Linked DNA regions of Homo sapiens: region 1 is linked to region 2. The links come from fine-mapping of genetic effects on gene expression. Tissue or cell type: whole blood. Region 2 holds a variant in brackets; the other region holds the start of a gene. All regions are shown on one strand. Distances are between the middles of the regions.

Region 1 (8,144 bases), 61 kb after region 2:
TAACAAAACCTAGGTTTCCAATTCAGTAAATCCCAATTTAATTTTAGAATTAAAATATTGCCACCAATTAAATTACTTTAAACATGTAAAAAATATTTTAAGTTCTGAAACAAGAGAAGGTGTTAACTATCAAGTTTAAATGCATAATTTCTTCCATTACTTCCACCCTTTCCTTCCCACACACACAAAAAACATATATATCTCTCTCTATATACATATATACATATACACACACACACACCTCTAGAACTTACGGTATACAGGATTTTCAAAAACATATGAAGATTTTAAAAGTGATTTTTAGGAGATAGGAAACTATAAAGTGAAGAAGTGAATGAATGATAAACCCCCAATTCAGGGCTTTTCACTGCGTGGGGGTTGGGAATGAGACAAGATTGGGAAGGAGTGCCCGGGGTTTTTAAAGGCAATCGTAATATTATTTTTCTTAAACTGAGTGATGAGGAGACGGGTGTTCGCTGTACCATTATTCTCCATATCTTACTTATATTTTGTAATATTATTTAAAATAGTCAATATTTAATAAATACAAGTCTTTTTTAAAAGAGTTTATGTGATTGTCACCGTGGAAGGTATTCAAAGACATATATAAATCAAACCCTCACTTCAGAATGTTTTTTTCAATAGCAGTGTTACTCAGTAAAAAGTAAAACAATTAAGATGACTGTACGAATTTGTTCCAGAGCCAACCTTCTACAGAATTAACAAATCTTGAGAAAAACCTTATTTTTCTAAACTTCTACACAGATATGCTCAATTTTTTTCCCATTATGTACTGCTTCATTCTGTTTGCTTTTTTAAAAAGCTATTTTTCCTCAGCTTCTCTGTAACTCTCATCATTTTGTAAAAAATGCCTTAATTCTTTCTAACTCTCTGAATGAATCTGAAGAAATAATGGGGTTATGGCCGAGCATGGTGGCTCACGCCTGTAATCCCAGCACTTTGGGAGGCCGAGGTGGGCGGATCACCTGAGGTCGGGAGTTTAAGACCAGCCTGACCAACATGGAGAAACCCCATCTCTACTAAAAATACAAAATTAGCCGAGCATGGTGGCACATGCCTGTAATCCCAGCTACTCGGGAGGCTGAGGCAGAAGAATTGCTTAAACCCGGGAGGCAGAGGTTGCAGAGAGCCGAGATCGCGCCATTGCACTCCAGCCTGGGCAACAAGAGTGAAACTCCGTCTCAAAAAAAAAAAAATGGTATTATACCTCTACGAATGACATACAACAGCATGATCTGTATCACCCAAAATGACCATAAAATTAAATTCAGTATTTTGATAGTGAAAGGCTTTCAGTTCACCTGTTTTGTTGTTTCCAACTATATGATGCCAGCAGAAACCTCTAAGTCAAATATCAGGAAAACACCAATAATTTTTTAACATTTCTCCAACTCTATGTTATCTATTCTGCTTTCAATAAAGTCATAAAAACATCTAGATACATTTTGTTCAGACATGTGGAGTATTTAATTTTGTAAGGACAATCCAAGCAGTGAATTCCAGTGGTCCTCAAAAGCCAGCTATGTCTAATATTTCAAAAAGCCTAAAGATACATTTAACTGTAACGAGCCCAGACTAGGAATGAAAATACTTTTGCTTTTTCCACTGGGATCTTACCAGGTCTTCCTAAAGTTAGCTGGCTATGTCATGCTGATCAGGTATTCAGACATATGTCAAAATATGAGGTCCATGGAGCAAAAATAGTAAAAGTGGTCTTATTATCAGTATTCATTTTTTTTAACCAGTATTTAAAAAATAGCAACCACGAAGTCTGGGGCCCACTGAACCGGAATAGTTCTATCACTCTTATCAGAAACCCCAGAGAACCTTGATTCTCTAACTTTGTTAAAAATTTGCAAGCCAACTTTCAATTACTTTTTTTTTTCAATTTTTAATTTTTGCCAGTTCAGTTCTCTGCCCCTCTATCTTTGTGAAACAGAGTCAAGGGAGGTTAAGAAAAAGCAAGTGTTTCCATATCACATCTTCTTCCTGCTACAAGCCAGGCTAACAGAACCAGAACTGTTTCTCTCTTCTCCAGCTTCCAATTCTCCTTCAAATTAAACTGAGACCCTCCCCAAACTATTGCTCTTTGCAAAATTAAATACTCCAGTGTCTGAACAAAGCTAAACTAAAAAGGACACTTTAAACGAATAACCTTTAAAAACAAACTAAGTCAGCCTTCAAAATAATCCCCTTTGGCCACACAGGACAGCCCAGGGGACAGGTGCAGGGCATGCCTTCCTAGAGGCTGTCTCCTCCTCCATGAATCTGACCTTTTCCAGCTGGTAGCTCTGGCACCTCACAAATCAGTTGTCAGTAGGCCGAATGCCTGCTTTCCCATCTGCACTTTCCAAATGGCTCCTGATGCCAACGGCTGAGATATGACCTGGCTCTCTGATGAGAACATGCTTCCCAAGTGACATGCCAGGTTTCCTGGAAGCATTTCTAAATGCATTCTCTGAGCTCCCTCCCTCACCTCCCAGTCACGGTTCATTCTTCCTTCCCTGCACTTCCTAATGCCACCTCCTGATCCTATTCCTCCAACGTCATGTCCCTTCAGTCCCAAATCCTTACCCACTTTCATCAACCATTGACCCTTGTCCTGCCTTACATCCCAACTTCAAATCCAAAGGGCATAGTTCTGGCTAGGTGTGGTGGCTCACGTCTGTAATCCCAGCACTTTGGGAGGCGGAGGTGGGTGGATCACCTGAGGTACGGAGTTCGAGACCAGCCTGGCCAACATGATGAAACCCCATCTCTACTAAAAATACAAAACTTAGCAGGGCATGGTGGCAAATGCCTGTATTCCCAGCAACTCGGGAGGCTGAAGCAAGTGAATTGCTTGAACCCAGGAAGCAGAGGTTGCAGTGAGCCGAGATCACACCATTGCACTCCAGCCTGGGCAACAGAGCAAGACTCTGTCTCAAAAACAAACAAACAAATAAACAAAAAAGCAAAGAGCATAGTTACAACATTTTGGAGCTGGTTCAAAGTGATCTTTCTGAGGCCTACCTGCAGGCAGGTCGGTCATGGCCTCTTCCCTTGCCTTCTTCAGCTTCTCCCTGACCCAGGGAAACTCCTGTAGGGAATCTAGGAATGTATCAAATGCTTTAGGGCCCCTGGAAGGTAGGATATCCAGCAGGAGCATTGTTTTCCGGAGGCCTGTGGTTTGAGCATTGATTTCTTGAATATGGTTTTCCGTCAAGATTCCTTCCTGGTAGAGGTACTGAAGAACCAGTCCCTCCACCAATACCTCTGCACCCAGCTCCAGGCGAAGTGAGCGGAGTACTTGTTTGTCTCTGGCCTCCATTTCTCCCTGGAAAGAGCCAAAATCACAGCTCAAATTACAGACATGTTGATGTGGCCCTAAAGACAGTGTCACTGCAATGTAAGTTCCTTCAGGTCAAGCACATCTTTAAACCATAGCAGACTGCCAGGTCATGGTATTTAATTCACTGATTAAGCCAAGCCAGGTTAATTTTGAATGTTTCCTAACATAATGAACAACAATGAAGATGAATCATCTTTTCTGTTTCTGCTTTTCACACAATGGGGTCCCAGCTCAATTCCTCGTTCAATAAAGAAATTTGGAAAAAGAAAAAAAAAAAGTGGGTCAGAGACCCTTCTGAACAAGCAATTTTTATCTGAAGATTACAGAGCAGCACTAATTTTAACACGCTGGAGAAGAAATGGTGGTTTTATTTTCACATTGCCCTCATCAGACCTGCACCACCACCACCAAGGCAGAAACTGCCAAGGTGGACGCAGGTCCCCTTTTTTTGATCACAAGTATTTGCAAAACCTGATCAGTAATAGGAGTGCAGGACAGAAATCAGCAGGTTCAGAATTTAAGGCTCTTTTCGCTAAAAGTCCTCTACACGATCACCTTTAAGAAAATTGTTGTTTGTGCCCAGTCTACAATAAACTTTACACAATATACAGTCACAGACTCCATTCCTTCCCACTAAGAATTCCGAATCTCCAGCACAACACTGTCGTGGCCGCACATGCATGGGACATTTTATGGGATTTTTTTCTTTCAAAAAAAGCACACACCCCAGCACTGGTCAGTAGCCAGGCACGATTTGAAGGTGCAGTTCCACCACCCCTGCACCAGTGTGCTGTGGCTTGGTTGTGTGTAAGGCAGTGAAGGTTAAGTGACCGGGAAGGCAGGCAGGGATGACAGATGGGGCTTCAGACACACCCGGGCAGTACGACCACGGCTAGGCGACACCCGATCCCACACTCCCCCTCGCAACCCTGTAAAGTTCAGGAGGTGACAGGTGAGGAGGGGAGGTGTTCACGTTTGGCCGTGAGCGCCCATTGGGAACTATTTAAAAAGGCTCTGCTTCGGCCGCTGAAACCCTTGTATCAAACAGGAAGACTACGGGCGGTTTCTGCGGCAACTTGACCCGCTAAAGAGGGAGTGCTGGGAATGAACTAAAGAGCGGACCAAGGGGAGAGCGGGCCTCCGGCACTGCCGCAGCCACCCAGCCTTGGCCCGGATCGGAAATGCGGAGCAAGTTAGCGGGGCGGGGAAGCCCCCGCAGGGCCCAGGTCGCAGACGCTACAATGCAGGACTTTCAAAGAAAGATGGATTCCTGTTACTTACGTCTGCAACCACGTATCTTTGGGGCGGGGGAGAAAAACTGCAACCGGAATCCTGACTGTTAGGGAACCTGCCCCATAAGCACCATCTTTGTTAATGGCGAAAACCCTAAACAGGAAGTGTTGACACCATCTTTGTTGAGGGCAAGTACAGGAAGTGCTGTCGCCATTTTTATTGAGCGTTCAAGGGTCGGATCGAAGCTCTTCCCGCCATGCTTACTGTGGGTAAACAATTCAATAGCGGGGAGATGGACAACCGTAGTGTCACTTAAAGGGTATCTAAGTAATGGAGTAATTGAATCATTGCATTTTAACACAGTAACTCCATCAGGGCCTCGCACACAATTGACCTAACAGAGAGGCAGGTCAAAAGCCACCCTAGTAGAGAAGCCTTCTCTGACCTATCTGATTAAAACGGCAAGACAGCTGCGCTCATTTCCTGCACTCCCCATTAACCAGCTTTATTTTTTACGCATCACCATCTTATTAAAACTTTTCACTTATTCATTTGTTTATCCTTCTGCTTCCCTCCATTAAAATGCAAGGTCATTTATTTATATCAAGGGTTCCTGCCCGCAAAGAGTTTACAAATCTGTCAGTCAGGATTTCATTGCAGCACTCAGCTAGTTACTCCTAGTCAGAAAGGGATTCGTTAGGGGGAATTGGGGACATTCGAAATCATTGGAAAGGCTGGAGAAGGGCTGAGCTGAACATCCATGGATGACTACCTAGATAAGATTGCTGATTGTGGCTGCTGCCCACAATCAGGAAGATGGCGTCAGGAAGTTGCCATGCCTGGTCCCCAACCTCCTCTCAACACCGACAGAACAATTAACAGGACACTGGAACAGTGCTGCAAAAAACGGTGGTCTCCACGGCTGCATTTGCCAGCAGCAAGAAAACAGCACCTGCAAATCTTGCTTTGCTGCGTGCCATTGGTGAGACCAATCTGACATGCAGAATATTAGCAGCAAGGATGTCTAGAGCATGTAGTTGGTAGCTTTCCAGCTTGTGAAACACAAAAAGGTATAGTAAATGAGGGAAGGCCTGACACTTAAAGCCAATCTACTGCATCCACCACATTTTCAATGTGGAAAGCAAGAAAAAATGCATGACCCAAATACAGAGAAACACAGCAATGCCAAATTGGGTGTCCTTCCTCACATTCCTTTGTGAAGCGAGGCAGGCGATCAATAAATACATTCATTGATTCATTTTTAAATCAATTGGATGATACATACAGAAAGTCATATGCTTACTAAAAATCAGTTGACAGTACAGGGGGAAAAAACTCCTAAAATATTATTTCTGCAAAGGTTTTCACAGCCAAACCCTTTGGTGGAAAATGAAAATATCTTTGTTAAGCAAATCAATGGAGAACAGTTCTGAACCTCCCTCCTCAAAACCTTCTAAAAATTGTATTCAATTTACAGCATTACTATGCCAGTTACCATTTTACTACACCGTTAATGACAGTATTTTTACCTATGTGGCAAGTATTATTATTATTACAGTCATGCATTGCATAACAATATTTGGGTCAATGACAGACTGCATATATGATGGTGGTCAGAGCAATAGGCTATGCTATATGGCCTAAGTATGTAGTAGGCTATACCATCTAGGTTTGCATAAGTACATCCTATTTTGTTTGCACAATGACACATTTTTCACAATGTATCTCCACTGTTACAACTGTTTTAGCATTTGCATGTATAAAGACTGTGGAATCAGAATGGTCAATTGTCTTAGGCAAAATCTCACAGCTAATATAGAGCAAAACTTGAAGTCTAATGAAGTTTCTCTGATTTCATGCTCTTTCCAATACACCATACAACCTTGTATAGTGAAGAGTTTATTGTTCTAATGATAGCCAAATATTATTTGCAAATCATCCTGTTGCCACCTCCCATTCTTGATACTCTTGAGTTCCAGGTGCTCTCTTTTCTCTCTCCCTTTTCCCCTTTTGCTTGAGAATCATTGTCCTTTCCTCAGCAAGATTTCCCATCTGTTCATAGACAAATGTTAGCACCATTCTTTGTCTTCATCCAGATAAAGTGCAGACCACTTGCAACACTGCCAAGCGTTGAAGTTTACAGGTTAAACATCCCTAATACAAAAATTTGAAATCCAGAATCCTCCAAAACCTGCCTGAGAGTGGTGGCTGACACCTGTAATCTCAGCATTTTGGGAAGCCAAGGCAGGCAGATCGTTTGAGCCCAGGAGTTCAGGGCCAGCCTGGGCAACATAGGGAAATCCCATCTCTACAAAAAATACAAAAAATTAGCCAGCCATGCTTGTGTACGCCTGTAGTCCCAGCTTCTCAGGAGGCTGAGGTGGAGAATCAATTGAACCCGGGAGGTGGAGTTTGCAGTGAAACAAGATCATGCCACTGCACTCCGGCCTGGGCGACAGAGAGAGACCCTGTCTCAGAAAAAAAAAAAAAAAGAAAGAAAAAGAAATGCTCCAAAACCTGAAGCTTTTTGGGTGTCAACATGACGCCACAAGTGGAAAATTCCACACCTGACCTTATGTGATGGGTCTCAGTCAAAACACAAACCTTTGTTTCATGTGCAAAATTATTTAAAATATTGTATAAAGTTACTTTCAGGCTATGTGTATAAAAAGTATATATGAAACATAAGTTTTGTGCTTAAACTTGGGTCCCATCCCCAAGTTACCTCATTATGTATATGCAAATATTCCAAAATCCCAAAAAATCCAAAATCCAAAACACTTCTGGTCCCAAGCATGTTGGGTAAGGGATCATCAACCTATACTAACTTTTTTAGAGAGGAAAAGCAAGTGGATTTTTTTCTAACTGTGAACTTCGATAAATTTCAAACATATAGGAAAGTTGAAACAAATAGCGCAATAAACGCCCATATAAAGTTTCATATTTCTTGATGACTCATCATATTTGGAAAGGCTTGAGATCTCCTAGAAGCTAGAAGGTGAGCCTTGATGATGATGCCCAGGAGGAGGTGGGGAACCAACAATAGGATCCGTGAGGGTTCACAGAAGAGAAGCAGCCAGAGACAGCAGGAGAGTGTCAGGGCAGCAGCCGAGGGGCATGGCGTCCTATGGTAAACAACCTGAAAGGGTGGCCATTAAAGATCTGACTTAAATCTGCAGCGTGAAGTCTTTAATCATCGAATGCCTCTTCCCATGGCAAATACAGATGAGGATCCATGCTGTCTCTTAAGCAACTAGGCTGAACGACTAGCCCACTGCCATCAGCCACCCCACCTCAGCATACAGCGATACTTCATGGCAGTACACCAAAGACCCAACTTTACTTAGACAGATTAGCTAAGGCCAGAGGGCTTCTAAGGAATGGAACACAGATCAGAATCATTATCACAGGTGGTTACTCCTCCGCTCTGGCCAGACCCTCTGTAATCTGAAATTGTGCCCCCACGGAGGATTAAGCACCTGTTACCCAGTGGTAACGAATCCACAGGAAGGACAGATATTTTCATTTTTCTCTCTCCCCTAGTATGTTTACTTGTGTC
Region 2 (8,189 bases):
TTTTAAAGGGCAGACATTTATTTTTAATTCTGCAGGATTTCTTTTCAAAAGTGAACTTTGGTGTAGCCTCTGGTCTGGGGCGGAAGATGAGAATGGGAGGGCAGCCTGACCCCCCTCCTGATAAGGAAGGACCCAGCGCATAACCTGTTCAGGATCTGGAGCCGCACAAACACCTGACTCGCCCCTTCAAAACAAGATCCGCGGAATGGCTCGGGACACAACAAGAAATTGCCGGCAACCTGTGACGGCTCATTTTTACCGACAGTGGGAGGCGGGCAGTCGGAAGGAATGCCCATTTCTCCGGTGTTCCTTCCCAGAAGCAAAAGAACGTGTTTGTTTATGCAAGATTTACGTTTCACTCAGGTTTGGGTTGGGTTTGTTTCCTGGAGATGGAGCTGAGTTTCCCTGGTTTTGCTGGAGTGAGGACAAGCTGATCGCTCCGTATTTACCTTTCACTTGAGCCAAATTGGACAAATGCAAATAAACAGGTCTTGCAGGCGCCCCCCGGCAGTCGGCGCCGCCTCCCCGCGCTGGGCTGGGCAGCCGGGGCCCGCAGAGGCAGCCGGCGCCCTAGGGCGGCTGGGGCCGCGCGCCTCCCTGCCCCGCTGCGCGGCCCGCGGGTGCCCGGCCAAGCGCTGGCTTATCTGCAGCTCCCACAGCGCCCCCGCACTCACCAGTTCCTAGAGCAGGGATTCCGAGAAAAAAGAAAGAGCCGGGTTCCCTAGAAACATTAAATTAACACAAGGGATCTGGAAACAAAACAGCAGATGCCTCAAAGCCTTCTCCTTGACGGCTTCCTGCCTTCTTGGAAAATCTTTGCATTAAAATAGATTGAATTACCCTGCTCTGCCAGATGCTGCTCGGGAACTTCATTTTGGGCTAACATGAAAGGAGAGTTTGACATCTTTTAAAGGATTTTTCTTTTCGAGGTGGTTTGAGGGGCGCCTTTGGGTTGCTGACATTAGCAAGGACCCAAGGCTGAGCTTTTTGCATTACAGTCGAGAACTTTCCATAACAATGGCTAGCAAATCAGATAACAAAGATCATGGCGTGTAGAGGAGACGCGGTGGAGCATAGAATGAGCACTAAGGGTTCAGAAGCCGAGGTTGCTGTCTCTGGGAAGAGCCTAGAAAGAGCACAGGCCAGCCGCCTCCTTTTACAGGGGAGAAAATGTCTTTTATTTCTAAGCCTACTTATTTTGACCATAGCTATGAGAACTATCTAATGGCATTTCCAGAGAGTCACAAACAAGCAGAAAGGCTTGTGAGTAGTATTTTATCAGCCTCTTTGTTCTAAAGCCCATCGTCTAACCTCCACCGACCCCTATCTACAAATTAATCAGACCATATAATTTGTAAATTCAAACCCAGATTAATAACCACACACCTTGAACAGTGGGTCTTCAGCACAGAGTGTATTCCACTTTCCTGTCATGTTAACTTTCATATTTAAAGAATTTTGGTAGCTGAGAACAAGATCCAAAGCTTCCTATGAGGTATCAGGATTTTACAGAGTAAATTGTTTTTACTGGAGTAGGATCTTCTTTGACATTTTAACTTTTTTTCATGATAACCTTTAGGAAAGGACGCTATAATCCTTAGTCGCTAATTTATATGTGTCATGCTTTCTAGTAAACTGGAAAATAACCTACATTCTTAAAAGGATTCTATGCTTATCCCAAATTTAGGAGCACAAGATGGGGGAGAAGTATATTACAACAAGATACTCTAAACACAAATAAAATTAAATATCCTTGCCTAAGCATGAAAGCAATAAAACTCATCTTAAAGCAATGCAGTCAGACAAAATCATTGCATCTGTAATAAGGGTAAGTACACAACTCCGGGAGTTAGCAGCCCTAAATATTTCTGTTCTAATGACACACAAGAGATACACAAAATCTATCATTCCTCCCTGATGTACGAAAAAATAAAGGGCAATTTCATAACACCTTTGGTGCTTTCTAACTTAATAGCTGGCCTTCAGGAAAAGCAAGTATAATTTTTGAGTGTTTATAAGAAAGCAAAGGAAAATGTTGCAAAAAATTACTTGGCTCAAAGGCCACAGAGAAAGCCGGAATCTGCAGGACTCACCAAGCTACACAGCTGTTTTAAAACCGAAAGTCAAACAGCTTTTAAAAGGTATTAAGTATTTTCTACAACAAAATCATCAAATATACATACTTCTTTTTATCCTGCAAATAGACATTTTATTTCTATTAGAAAAAAACTATAGTTACACAAACAATAACTAGACTGCTGTAATAAATATAACTAGCCACATAATACTAGTCAACGCTGGCTTTTTAAAAGATTACCAGAGAATTTCAAAATGATTCTGAATGATCAAGTGTGACTCGTATATTTTTTAGGTAGGCATTGATGTTAAGAATATGGCTTTCACAGAAATAGAATCCAATTTATCTTATTTCCATATATTAATCATGGCAACAAATAAAAATGATGACAAAAATCACTAAGATAGTTTCTTTAAATTTTTTTAAATTAAAAACCAAAACCTTAGGTAAATCTGACAATCCTCCCCCAAAATTGGTTTTCGAAAAAAAGTCTTCAGGTCATAGAAAAAATGTAGATGGCTTATAACCCTTAGAATTCCTTTTAGTTAATGAGAATCTCATTTTTGGAATTTCTTCAAACTTAACTGAAATGTTAATGAAAAAGAGAAATATTTAGATGTTGAGAAAAAAAGTTGTTCTAATTATTCTGCTTCACTATCTCATTTCAGCTCATCAAAGTTAAATAGCTAATAAACAACTGGTCTGTTTTGGCAGATTTTTTTTCTATTTTAAAATTCATTACTAAACAGATGAGGTTACTGCTAGTTAAAATTCTGAATCCAAATGCCATACATGCTGTTGTAAAAACTGTGCAGTTTTAAATATATTTTTACTTCTATATATTTTTGAATCTTTAGCCAAACTCCTCCAATAAAGTTTTAGTTTATGATGTTTTCTAAAATAAAAACATTTGTATTTTATGCTATAAAAATCAATAAATGTCTTCTAAAGTTAGGTGCTCCAAAATAAATGATTCAAAAGTTTTAATGAAAGCCCTCTTATAATTAAAGAAGGTGATTGGTAATGAGGAGGAAAATGGGAGGCATATTTACAATAAATCAAAAGCAGAATTGTGATTAATGGGCTCCACAATGATTATTAATGTTCTCCCTATAAAATATTGATGTTTGCATTAATTTAAAAGTACAGACTGGGTTTTTTGCTTTGTTAAATGAAAAATAATTTTTTTCCTATTTTAAAATGAGAATGACTATTTTAAAAACAGAAGACTATGTCCAAGATCTTTCCCTTTCCCCATTTCAAAATTATGAGTTTTCTTTTTGTCTTTCTGAATTCTTGAAATCCAGTGACATTGTCATAGCTCTGAGAACCAAAATAATAGAAACCACTAACTGTAGGAGACAGCCTTGATGCTTTTGATTATATTTTCCTAGAAAGATTTTTATGATATTTAATCTTAATAGCTTTTTTTTTTTAGGAACTCCTCTAATGCCAATAAATGAGAATCTAAATCTCAGGAGTTTAGGCAAATTTAGCCCATCAGCATAGCCTAAAAACAGGATAATTTAATAAAACCTAAATAATACATTAGTTTTTAAATAATATGTTATATACTTTAGATATATATATATATATCCTGTTAAGATTAGTGGGTACCAACCTCATATCTGTATTGGAAATAAGCAGGGTGCAGATTTTTAAAAGGAAAAGAGGCTACACTACTACTCAAAGTCTCCTCAACATTTGGATGCAGGAGAGAAATGGAAAGAAAGTCGAGTTCATCAGGGCTGGTGCCCATCCCATGGCACTACACTTCCTCCTATCCCCTGACCACTGCCAAGTTTGGTCAGGATAGGTGGCTTCGTGTCTCTACATAGTCAGATACCTGTGTATTTTGCTGGGAGAAGGGGAAAAAAAATAAACAAATAAAAATAAAACTCTCTATTCCCAAACTCCCTGCATCCTTTCAAAGTCACATTTTATTAATGGAAATTAAAATGATGAAGAAAGAAACCATTAGTAACCTAAATGATAAGTTTCCCCTTAAAGACACATTTTAACACCAACAAGAGGACTTTCTTCTTTCACTTTCTTCCTTCCTTCCTTTCCTCGTTTCTCTCTCTCCCTCTCTTTCCTTCTTTCTTTCTCCTTCCCTCTCTCTCTTCTCTTTTTCTTTCTAGTCAGAGTTTGTGACTTACTAATTATTTTTATTCTGTTTGAATAGGGTCCCTGTTATCTTTTGTGATTTTCTGAAATGAAGTTAAGATTTCCATTATTTATGAGAATAAAACAGGAGGTTGACACTTTACGCACAAAAAAGAATAACCAAAGGTTACAATGACATCAGTTTTAGTTTTTATTAAGGGCTGGCGTGTGGTGCAGGGGGTGGCGGTGGGAGCGGGGTGAGGCAGGTGTGAGGAATGAGTTTGTTTCTTCCAAGAGAAGGATTTGCTTTGGTCAGTGTTGCTGCAGTCCCAGTGAAGGGGCCTACTCTGCCAGCTCTTCTGGGTAGACTTCATAACAGAGTGGGCAGGCTCAATTCTCTAGGAAGCCTGATG[A/T]TGGCAACTGCATCTCATGGAAGAATTCCACAAAGGGTTAAATTAGGGTGAGATTGTCAACAGGCTTCAAAAAGGCAGAGTTCCAGGGCCCATGCCTGAGGTCTCATGGGCCTCCTTCAGGTCCTCATCCCCACAGTCTGACACTTTTGGCCCTTCTCTTCTCCAGCTCCCCACCCCATTCTTCGGCCAGTCCTTCCTTTTTCCTCTAACCCTGCAAAAAATGAGCAGCGCTGTTGTTTTGTTCCAACTGACAAAACAGCTAAGAAACAGCAGAACATGACTGCCCTTTGCAAAATGGGCCATGTGATCCTCCTAGCTCAATTCAACACTTACAGTAAAAACGAATAGAAAGGGACCTGTTTATGAAACTCTCCTGCTTGCCTTTGGAATACTCTCATCCTCTCCCTTCTCAGCCTCCTAAATACCCAAGTGAATTTATATAATGAGCTTTATTTTATCACCCTGAAATTCTTCCTCAGTCCAAATTGCTAATGTGGCAGGTTCCAGCTGCCCAAATTCCCTAAACAACATTGCCTGTTCCATAAAAAGCATGCAATTACAAGCACAGCAGTCCTGCTCTGGTTCTTAGAACTATAAACTGACTACACAGCTCCCTGGCCCGGGAAGGCTATGAAACAGGCAACATGGACAATTTAAAGGTGTACAACATCCGAGGTTCCATTTCACCCTCAGGCAGCACGGAGTGGACAAGGTAAGGCCACCCTCCACTTTTCTTCTGGCTACTATATTGATTCTCTGGAAACTCTCTCTGCTCCAAAAGAAACCACCCAATCCCATGGAGAAAAGGTGACACTGAATTTGCACTGCTTTTTATGGTTGCATTTGTTTGACTAAGAGGGAGCAGAGTTCCATACAACAGACTGCTTTAGTTGGGTGACTTGAAAATAACACATACCAGATTAGTTCTCCAGATGCAGATTAGTACTAAGTTTGAATCCTTTCTTTTAAATTAATTAATGTAATCTCAATGTTTACATAATAGACATTGACTTTTATCTGGCACATACAGTATATGACTCTGCCTTTAGCAAAAATACCATTCAAGCTATCTTTAGCAGATGTGAATGTTTTATTTTTATTTTGGGGACTCCAAAGAGAGTCCATAACCTACCTTGGCATTGTCAGATCTCAAAAAAAGCTTTCTTCATACTTGCAATATAGTAATATCTAAGTACTTGGACATCTCTGCACAAAATATATGGGTCCACATCTCCCTGTTTTTCCATATACTATTCCCTCTGCAACCTTGTTCACATAGCAAACTCTAATTTATTCTTCAATAGGCAGCCTATGCCACCTTCCCTCAACTATCCCAGACCAGTAGTCATCACTGCCTCCTCTACCCCTTGTACATTTCTCTATGTGGTCTCACCAGAGAAGTACTATGTTTGCTCATATGTCTGGTCTCACCAGACAGTACCATGTTTGCTCAACTCAAAGTTCCTTGAGGAAATAATTGTATTTGTATCTCCAGTGCCTTGCATATTTTGTATCACATAATGAGTTCTATAAAAGAGAACTAAACTGATGTGGCTATGAAATGATTTACAGCTTTTAACTGGAATGAGCCTAGTACAAGACTCACTTAGATGCTGGTGGTTGATCCTAAGTTTCTCATGCTGTTATCTGCAATCATTTGCTCTTGCTCTACATTCAGAAGAGAAAGAAAAACTGGTGACACTAATCTGGCCTCTATATCATAATTAGACCAGGGGTAGGATCTGAGAAACTAGAAAATATTTAGCCTACCCCTAGTCACATCCTAAAAGACATCAATGTGGAACTCAAGGAACTCAGTGGATTTACCAACATTTATCATACCCTATATCCACCCATTATAACTACTTGAATTGTCATGGATGGGAACAGAAGATAGATTTTATTGTGGAGAACAGAATAAATCTAATAAAAGAAATAACTAGAGGAAAAGTTGGGGCTAGTTGACGTTTTTAAGTAGAGATGGGAAAAACATAAATGATGGTGGTCAGCACAGAAAGTTTTGAATATAAGGACTTTAGAAATCAATGTGGTCACTCTTTTCTAGTAATAGGCTGACCATGGACAAAAATAATAGGAACATTATTCCCTAGTTCCTTTGCAATGTACTGTACTGTTATTTAAGCATCCCAGCATCATGCTTGCTTTGATAAATACAAATCTAGCTCAATTGCCATGATTCTGCTTTGAGGCTCTCTCTTTTTTAATGATTTATATGTCATGCTCCCCAAAAGTCTTTCTAAAATTATACCAAAGGGAAAGAAGCAAAAAAAGGGGAGCTTAAATGTTCTGAGGAGCTGTTAGATGTGCCTGGTGCTTGCTATGCACTTCTTTTTGAGACAGAGTCTCCCTCTATTGCCCAGGCTGGAGTGCAGTGGCGTGATCTCAGCTCACTGCAACCTCCGCCTCCAGGGTTCAAGGGATCATCCCACCTCGGCCTCCTACTAGATGGAAATACAGGCCTGAGCCACCACAACCAGCTTGCTATGCACTTTATATACACCATCTATATGTATACCACCCTCCCAACAACTCCACTTGGTAGGAATAATTATTCTCATTTTAAATCAGTTTTAACCTAGGTGTCTCTGGTTCTAGATCTAGTATTTTTTCTACAAATAATACGGTTCCAATTTCTTTCTTTTCTTTCTTTTTGTAGAGATGGGGTCTCACTTTGTCACCCAGGCTGGGCTCAAACTCTTGGCTTCAAGCGATCTTCTCGCCTTGGTCTCCCAAAGTGCTGGGATTACAGGCTTGAACTACTGTACTCGACTGACTTTTCCTATTTCTAATGTCAGCATGAAGAACACAAGAAGTCAGCTTCAAAGGTAAGAGGTGTATCATTCATTCATTCAACATTTATTCCACAGCTACGATGAACCAGGCACTATAGTCTCTTTGAGGATATAAACATAAATAAGTTCTGGGACTCGACTTCAGCTTGCTCACAGTCTAATGGAAAAGAGACATAAAAACAACTTGGTTTATTCTATTTTCCCTAGGCTCTGTATTTGGATCCCCACACCTTGTCACTTTTTGCTGCCACTTTACAAACTTTCCATATCTTAAGAGTTACTCTATCTTTATTTACACATTAGTAAAACACAAGAAACCTGCCCCATTTCGTAAGCTGCCTACACTGCTAAAATCACATCCTAGAGGGAAGTGAGATGGAACAAACCATAAGCATTTGAACTCGCTTGTGCCGCTCTGGGTTTCCATGCTGCCAGGGTGTTTGTTCATTCATTTATTTGCATATTTTGGAGGGCCTACAGGAGGCCCAGTGCTAGCCAGGGAAACAGCGGTGAAAATGACATAACTAGTGTTCTGCCCCCATGGAGCTTACCCTCTAACCTTTACAGGAAGGGGAGGCAGACAGTCAACAAAATCCTGGATTGTGATAGGTGAGTCATTAAGGAAAATCACAGGGTGCTATGAGAAAGCACATATGGTACAGGGACCTAACCTTGGCAGGGGGATGAGGAAGGCCTCCCCTAGGAAGTGGCATGAAAGCTGAGATCTGTGAGTTGAGTGGGATTAGCTTGGTGAAGATAGGGGGAAGACGGACAAGGAGG

What was found. PIP is the estimated chance that this variant, and not a neighbour inherited with it, causes the effect.
Region 1: it holds the start of CRADD, and the variant in region 2 is fine-mapped to the expression of CRADD in whole blood (TOPMed, PIP above 0.99).

Annotation. Positions count from the first base shown.
Region 1 is chr12:93,673,962-93,682,105 of GRCh38, reverse strand. CRADD (CARD and death domain containing adaptor protein) reads right to left here and starts at 4,731. Exons shown (of 3, transcript NM_003805.5): 1 at 4,634-4,731; 2 at 3,034-3,337. The coding sequence starts at 3,331. RefSeq lists enhancers at 2,229-3,043, 3,860-4,674, 4,647-4,886, 4,675-5,490.
Region 2 is chr12:93,734,818-93,743,006 of GRCh38, reverse strand. All of the region lies in intron 2 of CRADD (CARD and death domain containing adaptor protein), which reads right to left. It overlaps CRADD-AS1 (CRADD antisense RNA 1), which reads left to right and starts at 5,184. Exons shown (of 3, transcript NR_110092.1): 1 at 5,184-5,308; 2 at 7,274-7,442. RefSeq lists silencers at 400-489, 520-689 and enhancers at 1-732, 733-1,689. The variant A/T (reference allele first, on the strand shown) is at 4,597.